Homo sapiens: one gene and its partner. Each later gene encodes a partner of the first gene's protein in a complex. Each region holds a gene or a part of one and is shown in the gene's direction. Other genes may lie near its edges.

Region 1 (3,171 bases):
ACATTTCTATAGTGAATGATACCATCATGTGGCCTATTTGGTGAAAAGAACAACAATGGAAGGCTTAGACTAACAATAGTGACTCACCCCAAAACCGGAGGAATGATTAGGAGCAGTGAAAGTGACGCTCTTGCAAGCAGGTACAACTAAATACTCAGAAACATGAAGGCTCCAGTTGATGGAATTTTCAGTAACAAGCTTAACCTTAATTCCCCCTTTTTCCCTCTTGACTTTTTAAAAAAGCGTTTCTTCCTGAGCATCATTTAATGAGTGTGACTGTTTCTTCCTTTGATAATTGAAGGCTTTGTAGTTTTAAATTGTGAAGCCCAGTTCTCTTGTTATAGAACTATTATCTAGACATGGAGGGCTGAATGTTAGCATGCCACAGACAAGGCATGCTTTACACATCTTGCTTAAAAAATTACTGATTTCATCTTGCTTGTTGTCTTTAGAAAAGTGAAGTGTGAGAGAGGAGAATCTCATGGTGATCTGTGTGATTTTCAAGACCTTTAATCCATTTTGAAAGAATCAATTTCATATTTGCAATGGGTTGCCATGTGGAAGAGTGATTATGCTTTTTTGCTGGTAGCTTCAGAAAGCACAGGAGGGAGAGCAATGTTGTTCAGAGAAAGATCAACAGGAGGAGAAACTGTCAGAGCTGTCTGAAATAGGGTGGTTTTGGGAGGCATTAATTCCCTCTCGTTGGGGGTAAAAGCAGAACGCAGGTTGGTAGTAAAATGCATGACAGACAGTAGGGGACGATAAACTTTAAAATTCTTTATAGTCTTGGAGTCTTTGAGATAGAAAAGAATATCTTTTTGGCCTTATGTCAAAAGAAGTATGGAAAGGTGAAAGGGCGGAAGAAAGCAGGAAAAGGAAGAACCATGTATTATACAGAGGACAATGGTGACAAGGTTTTTCTTGAAATAATGCAAATATGATAGATTAGAGGAATTTCAGTAGGGAATGCTTTTCACTTGAATTTGGGTTTCCTCTTCGATTAAGTTTGGGATCCTCATCTGCATTTGACTTGGAGAGAGAAAGAATGAATGTTAGGACCTATATCTGGTTTTCTATTAACTAAAGCAAGTGGAAAAGACTTATTTGGTATTTTTCCCACAAAAGTGAAAACTTTTCTTTTACTGTTTGTCAAAAAGGTGGAAATAGAAAAAGCCTTAATGTATTGGTGAATACATGGTTCAAAGTCATTTGAGTAGAGATGTTTTAAATCAGGAGTGTCCAATCATTTGGCTTCCCTGGACCACCTTGAAAGAATTGTCTTGGTACACACATAAAATACAAGAACAATAGCTGATGAGCTAAAAAAGTCCATGCATAAATCTCATACTGTTTTAAGAAAGTTTATGAATTTCTGTTAGGGTGCATTCAAAGCTGTCCTGGGCCATGTGCGGCCTGTGGGCTGCAGGTTGGACAAGCTCCTTATAAGTAATCTGTCATAGATAGTTTTGGAGCTGCAAAACAGGCCAAGGCATAATGGGTGGCACTCGGGATCCCCCAGATCCCAGCCTCACTTCAGTCTCCTTGCTCTGGTTAAGAAGGGGTGGTCAACTCTCTGCCCAGCTTTTAAACAGCTTCATTAGTGTGAGGTGCACCTGAAATTGATGCCTGCTGGTGGCCTCTCAGTCCAGAGAGCCGTCATTTTAAGCTCTTTGGCAAATCATACAATACTAAAGGGATATTACTATGAATGTTTTACAAATGCTTAAAACTCGGTTTCTGTCTCCATCAACCTAATCTTGCAATTTCTAATTTGTTCACTTTAGAAAACATGGCATAAATGCTCAAATACTTTTGCATTCTTATTTTCACAGCTTGGAGAGAGTGGAGAGATCAAAGCAATTGGAGAACTGGATTTGCTGTTTATGTCTCTGAGAAATGCCTGCATTTGACCAGAGCAAAGCTGAAAAATGAATAACTAACCCCCTTTCCCTGCTAGAAATAACAATTAGATGCCCCAAAGCGATTTTTTTTAACCAAAAGGAAGATGGGAAGCCAAACTCCATCATGATGGGTGGATTCCAAATGAACCCCTGCGTTAGTTACAAAGGAAACCAATGCCACTTTTGTTTATAAGACCAGAAGGTAGACTTTCTAAGCATAGATATTTATTGATAACATTTCATTGTAACTGGTGTTCTATACACAGAAAACAATTTATTTTTTAAATAATTGTCTTTTTCCATAAAAAAGATTACTTTCCATTCCTTTAGGGGAAAAAACCCCTAAATAGCTTCATGTTTCCATAATCAGTACTTTATATTTATAAATGTATTTATTATTATTATAAGACTGCATTTTATTTATATCATTTTATTAATATGGATTTATTTATAGAAACATCATTCGATATTGCTACTTGAGTGTAAGGCTAATATTGATATTTATGACAATAATTATAGAGCTATAACATGTTTATTTGACCTCAATAAACACTTGGATATCCTAAGTCTTGTCGTTTTGTGATTTTTCTCCTTTAATGTCATCATCATCATCATCATTGTCATGTTACCATTCCCATAACTTTATTCTTGACTCTAAGAAAATGAGGTAGCTATTAGTATTATTCTAATTTTACAAATGAGAAAGCTGCATTAGAAACATGTTAAGAAACATTTTATAACTATAAATAGTTGACCCTTATTGAGCCAGGTCTATCTGATTTCAAGGCTCTCTGCTATAGTGCCTATACTGATTTATTATGTTGACTCAGCATGTACCTTTGAAAAGAAAAAAGTTGAGAAATTGAAAATAACTTATCATTAGTCATTTATGGATAAAAGAAAGGAATGATGTTGCTGGAGAGAAGTACATGTAGCCTCTATTGCTATAGATAAACTGTTTTAGTTCTAGTTCAGGCCTACTGAAAGGTGCACTCTCCAGTATCCCTGAAAGTAAGACACTAAAGGAAAAGGAAAGCTGTGTTTTGGGGAGTCATACCTACTAGTAAGTTTGGCACTGATAGGGAAGTCTCATAGGTGGAAGATGGGCAAGATATTATGAAACACACATAGAAAGGAAAAGGGGTTCATCTTCAAAATGTGTACAATGCTACAGAGAAGAGAGAGAAAGAGGTAGAGATAAAGGTTGGATTTGTTCTACCAAGAAGAATGGACAAAGGATGCCAGCAATGAAGAGCCATTCCTGGGGGAA
Region 2 (6,633 bases), on another chromosome or scaffold:
GGATCACTTGAGGCAAAGAATAGAGCATTTCAAGCAAGGGACCAGCATTTGCAAAGGCCCTCTGGCATAGCAAACTCAAGGGACTGAAAGATAACCAATATATTGAAGAAGAGCATGCAGGAAGGAGTCCATAATGAGATGGGACTGGAAAGGTAGGCAGGTACAAGAATTTTTTAAGGAGTTGTGACTTCCTCCAGAAAAACATAATTTTATTTAGGAGCCATATGATCAGACTTGTGTATAGAAAAGATCATTTTGACTATATTTTGGGGAACAGGTTGGATGCAGATAAGTGAAGTAGCAGGTTACTAATAATAGTCTACAGGAGACCGAATTTGGCTTATGAAAAGGACTAGAGAAAATTTATTCCTGGAGGGACATTTAGTAAGCAACATTGGCAGGACCAGGTGATAGATCGGATATAATGGTGAAGAGGACATGTCAAAGATGACCTCTAAGTTTCTTGCATGCATAATTAGATGAATTGCTGAGATCTTTTTGATGGGGTTTGATGAAAAAGACCAGTTTGGTGGGATGCAAGGTAATAGAGATTATGAGTTTGGTTTTGAATATGTTAAGCTTAATATGCTTTTAAGAGATCCAGGGGACATATCTCTTCAGATCCAAGACTCAAAGTAAAGTCTTTATTAGAGACAAAAATTTGTGAGTCATTTCATGCATACAGTACAGTGGACATTGATAGGATTGCCTAGGGAGAGAGTAGTGAGTGAGAGGCAGTTTTGAGTAAGACCAGATATTGAGGGACTTTCACCCAAAGATGCCTGAGTAAGAAAAATCTTAAAAGGAGACTGAGAAGGAATAGCCAAAGAGGTAGGAGGAAATCTGTGGGCTGATATGTTCATGAATAGTGCGGGAAGGTAATATTTCAAGGAGAGAGCTGTTAAAGAGTAAAGTGCTATGAGGTCAAATAATCTTGACTTGGTCTTGTAACACAATCACAATCCAGTGAATGGGTCAAGAAACTTGCAACTGATTGCAAAACTGATTTTGCAATCAATTGCAAAATCTAGCATCACAGATCATAAGCCAGGAGCCCTGTGATGTCCGCAGCTGACTCACTGATAGGACAATGCCTGAAATATGTGCCTCACTACAAAAGGGACATGTTTATTTAAAGTTAACTATCCCATTATTCCAATATAGTTGGAAAGTGCTTTAAAAACTTATGGTTCCAAATTAAATAGCCTGGGAGTAGGAAACTCTCTTCTTCTAAAACACTTAGAAATTCTGGATAAAACACATTCTCCAAACTCCACAGAGGGGCAAAAATAAAAATAAAGGGAATCCTTGGGGGCCAAAACAAAGTAAACGGAAATCAAAGGGGAACCAGAAGACCAACACAGTGACTGCCCCAGCTGCCCTGAAGGCATTTGCTGGATGTGGTAACTAGACCCTAAGTGGTAACAGCCACTCCCAGGACAAAAGACAAGGTTTTAGGCCAGCACAAGGCAGGGAGTTAGAACTAATACCCCTACAAAAGTCTTAGAACCTCCAAGGGCTACACTGTCAATAAAAAGTCAGACTAGCCTGGATGTGGTGGCATGCACCTGTAATCTCAGCTACTCAGGAAGCTGAAGGAGAATCACTTGAGTACAGGAGTTTGAGCCCAGCCTGGGCAACATAATGAGATCCTGTCTCAAAAAAAAACCCAAAACCAACCAACCAAACAAACAAACAAAAGTCAGATTAAGAAAAGCCCTTCCAATAAACAGAGGAAAGTAATTTGTATGTTTCCATCTTTATTCTGCTAAGAATCTAACACTCCCTACATTTATAAAGGTTCGAGATTCAAATACATATGCAATTTTCTTTTTTATTTTTGTTTTTTGACATGGGTTTCACTATGCCACACAAGCTATAGTGCAGTGGCATGATCATAGCTCACTGCAGCCTCGGCCTCCCTGGGCTCAGGTGATCCTCCCACCATGCTGATTTGTCATTATACATAATGCGTCTGTATATAATACATTCCTTTGATGATTTGTCAAATTTTTATGTTTTTTCTTCAGCAAAAATAGATCCTCCAGTCATGAATATAACCCAAGTCAATGGCTCTTTGTTGGTAATTCTCCATGCTCCAAATTTACCATATAGATACCAAAAGGAAAAAAATGTATCTATAGAAGATTACTATGAACTACTATACCGAGTTTTTATAATTAACAATTCACTAGAAAAGGTAAGTTCAGATGAATAGATATATTTAGAGTTTTTTTCTTTTGTTTATTTAACCAATATTGTGGTCATATGAGATGTCCTCTTCTGCTACTCTGCCTCCTCTTACTTTTCCTTATCTTTAATTTCTTCTTACTCTCAGCCATCATTGATCAACGGTTGGTGGTGGCATCACCATCAGAATGTGTGTGTGCCCTTTCCATCCTCCGGTTTGTCTCTACAGTCTTCCCTGCATATCTAAAGATTGGTATTAACCGTATTTAATTGCATGTGACTGCCACAAATATTCATTTTTACGGGCTTTGCACACCTTATTTATTTATTTATTTATTTATTTATTTATTTATTTATTATGTATTTTATTTTTAGACCAGGTGTCACTCTGTCACCCAGGCTGGAGTACAGTGGTGATCATAGCTCACTGTAGCCTCTAACTTCTGGGCTTAAGTGGTCCTCCTTCTTCAGCCTCCTGAGTAGCTGGGACTAGAAGCATGCCCATCACATCCAGCTTTTTTTTTTTTTTTTTTTTTTTTTTTTTTGTAGAGGCAAGGTCTCACTATGTTGCCCAGGCTGGTCTCAAACTCCTGGCCTCAACCAATCCTCCAGCCTTGGCCTCCCAAAGTGCTGGGATTGCAGGCATAAGCCACCTCCCCGGCCTCACACCTTATTTTAAAATAGCTTTTGAATCACATGATTATTTTTGTGCCAGTTTTGCTGCGATTTTTTTTTTGAGACAGGGTCTGACTCTGTCACCCAGGCTGGGGTGCAGCAGTGCAATCACAGCTCACGGCAGCCTCAACATCCTGGGCTCAAATGATCCTCCCACCTCAGCCTCCCAAGTAGCTGGGACTACAGGTGCATGCCACCATGCCCAGCTATGTTTTTTTGTACTTTTAGTAGGGACAGGCTCTGGCCATGTTGCCCGGGCTGGTCTTAAACTCCTGGGATCAACTGATCTGCCTGCCTTGGCCTCCCAAACTGCTGGCATTACAAACATGAGCCACCAGGCCTGGCCTTGCAGTGGTATTCTAATCCACCATCGGTGCTTCTGTCTGGATTTGGTGGATAATTGAATTTGTTCCTTTTTTGGTGCCATCTAAGATGAGGGGTTTTTGTCGTAAGGAGCAGAAACCACAGTTTAACTTGTTTAGAAACAAAAGAGGAGGGGAGGGATAATTAGGAGATAGGCAAGCAATCTCAGGGACAGAGGCAGGACGTAGAGTGCCGGCAGCCTTAGTGGTGACTGGGAAGGGAAACGGAAGTGAGTTCTAAGGGATCCTGCTCTGTCTCTCAGACTTTCTGTCTCTATGTGGCCACAGTTTCATGCCTGCAGTTATCTCTGCTCATCTCGCTGCACATCATTCTCACTGCACACTTCAAATTCTTAAAAAGAAGGCCAGGTGGGGTGGTTCATGCCTGTAATCCCAGCACTTTGGGAGGCTGAGGCAGGCAAATCATTTGAGGTCAGGAGTTCAAGACCTGCCTGGTCAACATGGTGAAACTCCATCTCTACTGAAAATACAAAAATTAGCCAGGCGTGGTGGTATGCGTCTGCAATCCCAGCTACTCAGGAGGCTGAGGCACGAGAATCTCTTGAACCTGAGAGGCAGAGGTTGCAGTGAGCCGAGATGGTGACACTGCACTCCAGGCTGGATGATGGAGTGAAACTGTATCTCAAAAAACAAACAAAATTCTTAAAAACAAGACTCTGACCATGGGGTCAACCAGCCAACAGCCCTCAAGGAGAAGTCAAGTTGCACCTACACAGCCACTTGCCTTGTCCCTTTACCAGGCTATGGCCTAGGACTCTAGAAAAGAAGGATGTGTCTGGGAAGAAACCCCACAACCCATCTACTGCTGTGACCATGTACAACTTGTTAATTTAAACAAAAATGCAGCTGTGACTTAATGGCAGCCATTTACCAACTGATTATTTTCTCTCTCGTGTGTAGGAGCAAAAGGTTTATGAAGGGGCTCACAGAGCGGTTGAAATTGAAGCTCTAACACCACACTCCAGCTACTGTGTAGTGGCTGAAATATATCAGCCCATGTTAGACAGAAGAAGTCAGAGAAGTGAAGAGAGATGTGTGGAAATTCCATGACTTGTGGAATTTGGCATTCAGCAATGTGGAAATTCTAAAGCTCCCTGAGAACAGGATGACTCGTGTTTGAAGGATCTTATTTAAAATTGTTTTTGTATTTTCTTAAAGCAATATTCACTGTTACACCTTGGGGACTTCTTTGTTTATCCATTCTTTTATCCTTTATATTTCATTTGTAAACTATATTTGAACGACATTCCCCCCGAAAAATTGAAATGTAAAGATGAGGCAGAGAATAAAGTGTTCTATGAAATTCAGAACTTTATTTCTGAATGTAACATCCCTAATAACAACCTTCATTCTTCTAATACAGCAAAATAAAAATTTAACAACCAAGGAATAGTATTTAAGAAAATGTTGAAATAATTTTTTTAAAATAGCATTACAGACTGAGGCGGTCCTGAAGCAATGGTTTTTCACTCTCTTATTGAGCCAATTAAATTGACATTGCTTTGACAATTTAAAACTTCTATAAAGGTGAATATTTTTCATACATTTCTATTTTATATGAATATACTTTTTATATATTTATTATTATTAAATATTTCTACTTAATGAATCAAAATTTTGTTTTAAAGTCTACTTTATGTAAATAAGAACAGGTTTTGGGGAAAAAAATCTTATGATTTCTGGATTGATATCTGAATTAAAACTATCAACAACAAGGAAGTCTGCTCTGTACAATTGTCCCTCATTTAAAAGATATATTAAGCTTTTCTTTTCTGTTTGTTTTTGTTTTGTTTAGTTTTTAATCCTGTCTTAGAAGAACTTATCTTTATTCTCAAAATTAAATGTAATTTTTTTAGTGACAAAGAAGAAAGGAAACCTCATTACTCAATCCTTCTGGCCAAGAGTGTCTTGCTTGTGGCGCCTTCCTCATCTCTATATAGGAGGATCCCATGAATGATGGTTTATTGGGAACTGCTGGGGTCGACCCCATACAGAGAACTCAGCTTGAAGCTGGAAGCACACAGTGGGTAGCAGGAGAAGGACCGGTGTTGGTAGGTGCCTACAGAGACTATAGAGCTAGACAAAGCCCTCCAAACTGGCCCCTCCTGCTCACTGCCTCTCCTGAGTAGAAATCTGGTGACCTAAGGCTCAGTGTGGTCAACAGAAAGCTGCCTTCTTCACTTGAGGCTAAGTCTTCATATATGTTTAAGGTTGTCTTTCTAGTGAGGAGATACATATCAGAGAACATTTGTACAATTCCCCATGAAAATTGCTCCAAAGTTGATAACAATATAGTCGGTGCTTCTAGTTATATGCAAGTACTCAGTGATAAATGGATTAAAAAATATTCAGAAATGTATTGGGGGGTGGAGGAGAATAAGAGGCAGAGCAAGAGCTAGAGAATTGGTTTCCTTGCTTCCCTGTATGCTCAGAAAACATTGATTTGAGCATAGACGCAGAGACTGAAAAAAAAATTTACTTTGATCTCTGTTTTTGAATTCTTATTATTTATATTTTGCTTACTACCTTTTTTGCCTTTTGTCCTTTTGTGGAGAGGGCGATGAATTAAGAGTAGTGGGGTGGGTGGCGAGTAAGTAAAATTTCAAATAGCATTTTAGTGAATGCAATTCAGTAGTCCTGAAGCCTGACTTAATAAAACAAAATTCATTTATGGTTGTTTCATGAAAGTTATTAGATAGGATCAAGTTTTGTTTGTATATTGTTTGCCTTGCTCTGTTTTTGCTTTTGTGCTTAGGCAAGTGCAAAATACTCTATGGAAATCATAATTGTCATCTTCTTCATGGTGTTAGGGATATATTGTCACATGATTTCAATAAATCCTTTTTTTGCTTTACATTTTGGAATATTTGTTATTTGAGCTTTTAAAAGAAGAACACAATGTTTAAGTCTGCCAGATGAAATTCCAGTTAAACATCTTAGGCCCACACGAAGTTCCAGCCAGGAAGGAGCAAACAGTTTTGAGCCCGACTGAGCTTGCCCTGTGATCAAATGCAATCCCAGTCTTACAGCTGCTCAGGCCAAAAGCGTTGAGGTTATCTTTGTCTCCCCGCTTTCTTTCACATCATATATATTCAATGCACCAATAAATTCTATTGATCTACCTCCAAAATACAACACTTCTCAGAACTACCTATTCCAGGCCACCATCATTTCTCCTCTGGATGGTCACTATGGTTACCTCATTGGTGTCCCCGCTCTGCTTGCCTCCCTCCAGTTTTGTCTTAACAAGGTGGCCAGCATGAGCCTTGGAACATAAATCAGATCATGTCACTTTCCTGCTCTAAAACCGCCAATAGCTTCCCATCTCATAAGGGTAAAAACCAAAGTCTTTATAATGGCCTCCAAGGCGCTGTATGATCTGTTT

The links.
Region 2: the proteins of IL22 (region 1) and IL22RA2 are in contact, whole or in part, in a crystal structure (PDB 3G9V), measured with the Homo sapiens proteins. Residues at the interface, in NP_065386.1 of Homo sapiens: Phe47, Gln48, Pro50, Thr53, Asn54, Phe57, Met58, Lys61, Ser64, Leu65, Asp67, Asn69, Thr70, Asp71, Val72, Arg73, Leu74, Lys162 (codon at 1,854), Gly165 (codon at 1,863), Glu166 (codon at 1,866), Asp168 (codon at 1,872), Leu169 (codon at 1,875), Met172 (codon at 1,884), Arg175 (codon at 1,893), Asn176 (codon at 1,896); in NP_443194.1 of Homo sapiens: Lys65, Ile66, Tyr99, Gly100, Gln101, Arg102, Trp104, Gln128, Glu129, Pro130, Tyr132, Met148, Pro150, Arg151, Thr153, Trp155, Trp156, Glu157, Glu200 (codon at 2,156), Pro246 (codon at 4,242), Met247 (codon at 4,245), Leu248 (codon at 4,248), Asp249 (codon at 4,251), Arg250 (codon at 4,254).

What each region holds. Positions count from the first base shown.
Region 1 is NC_000012.12:68,247,538-68,250,708, reverse strand, and holds the end of IL22 (interleukin-22 precursor), read left to right. Parts: intron 1-1,832; coding exon 1,833-1,910; 3' UTR 1,911-2,467; downstream 2,468-3,171. UniProt on the Homo sapiens protein: Cytokine that plays a critical role in modulating tissue responses during inflammation. Plays an essential role in the regeneration of epithelial cells to maintain barrier function after injury and for the prevention of further tissue damage.
Region 2 is NC_000006.12:137,143,289-137,149,921, reverse strand, and holds the end of IL22RA2 (interleukin-22 receptor subunit alpha-2 isoform 1 precursor), read left to right. Parts: intron 1-2,030; coding exon 2,031-2,200; intron 2,201-4,148; coding exon 4,149-4,298; 3' UTR 4,299-6,102; downstream 6,103-6,633. UniProt on the Homo sapiens protein: Isoform 2 is a receptor for IL22. Binds to IL22, prevents interaction with the functional IL-22R complex and blocks the activity of IL22 (in vitro). May play an important role as an IL22 antagonist in the regulation of inflammatory responses.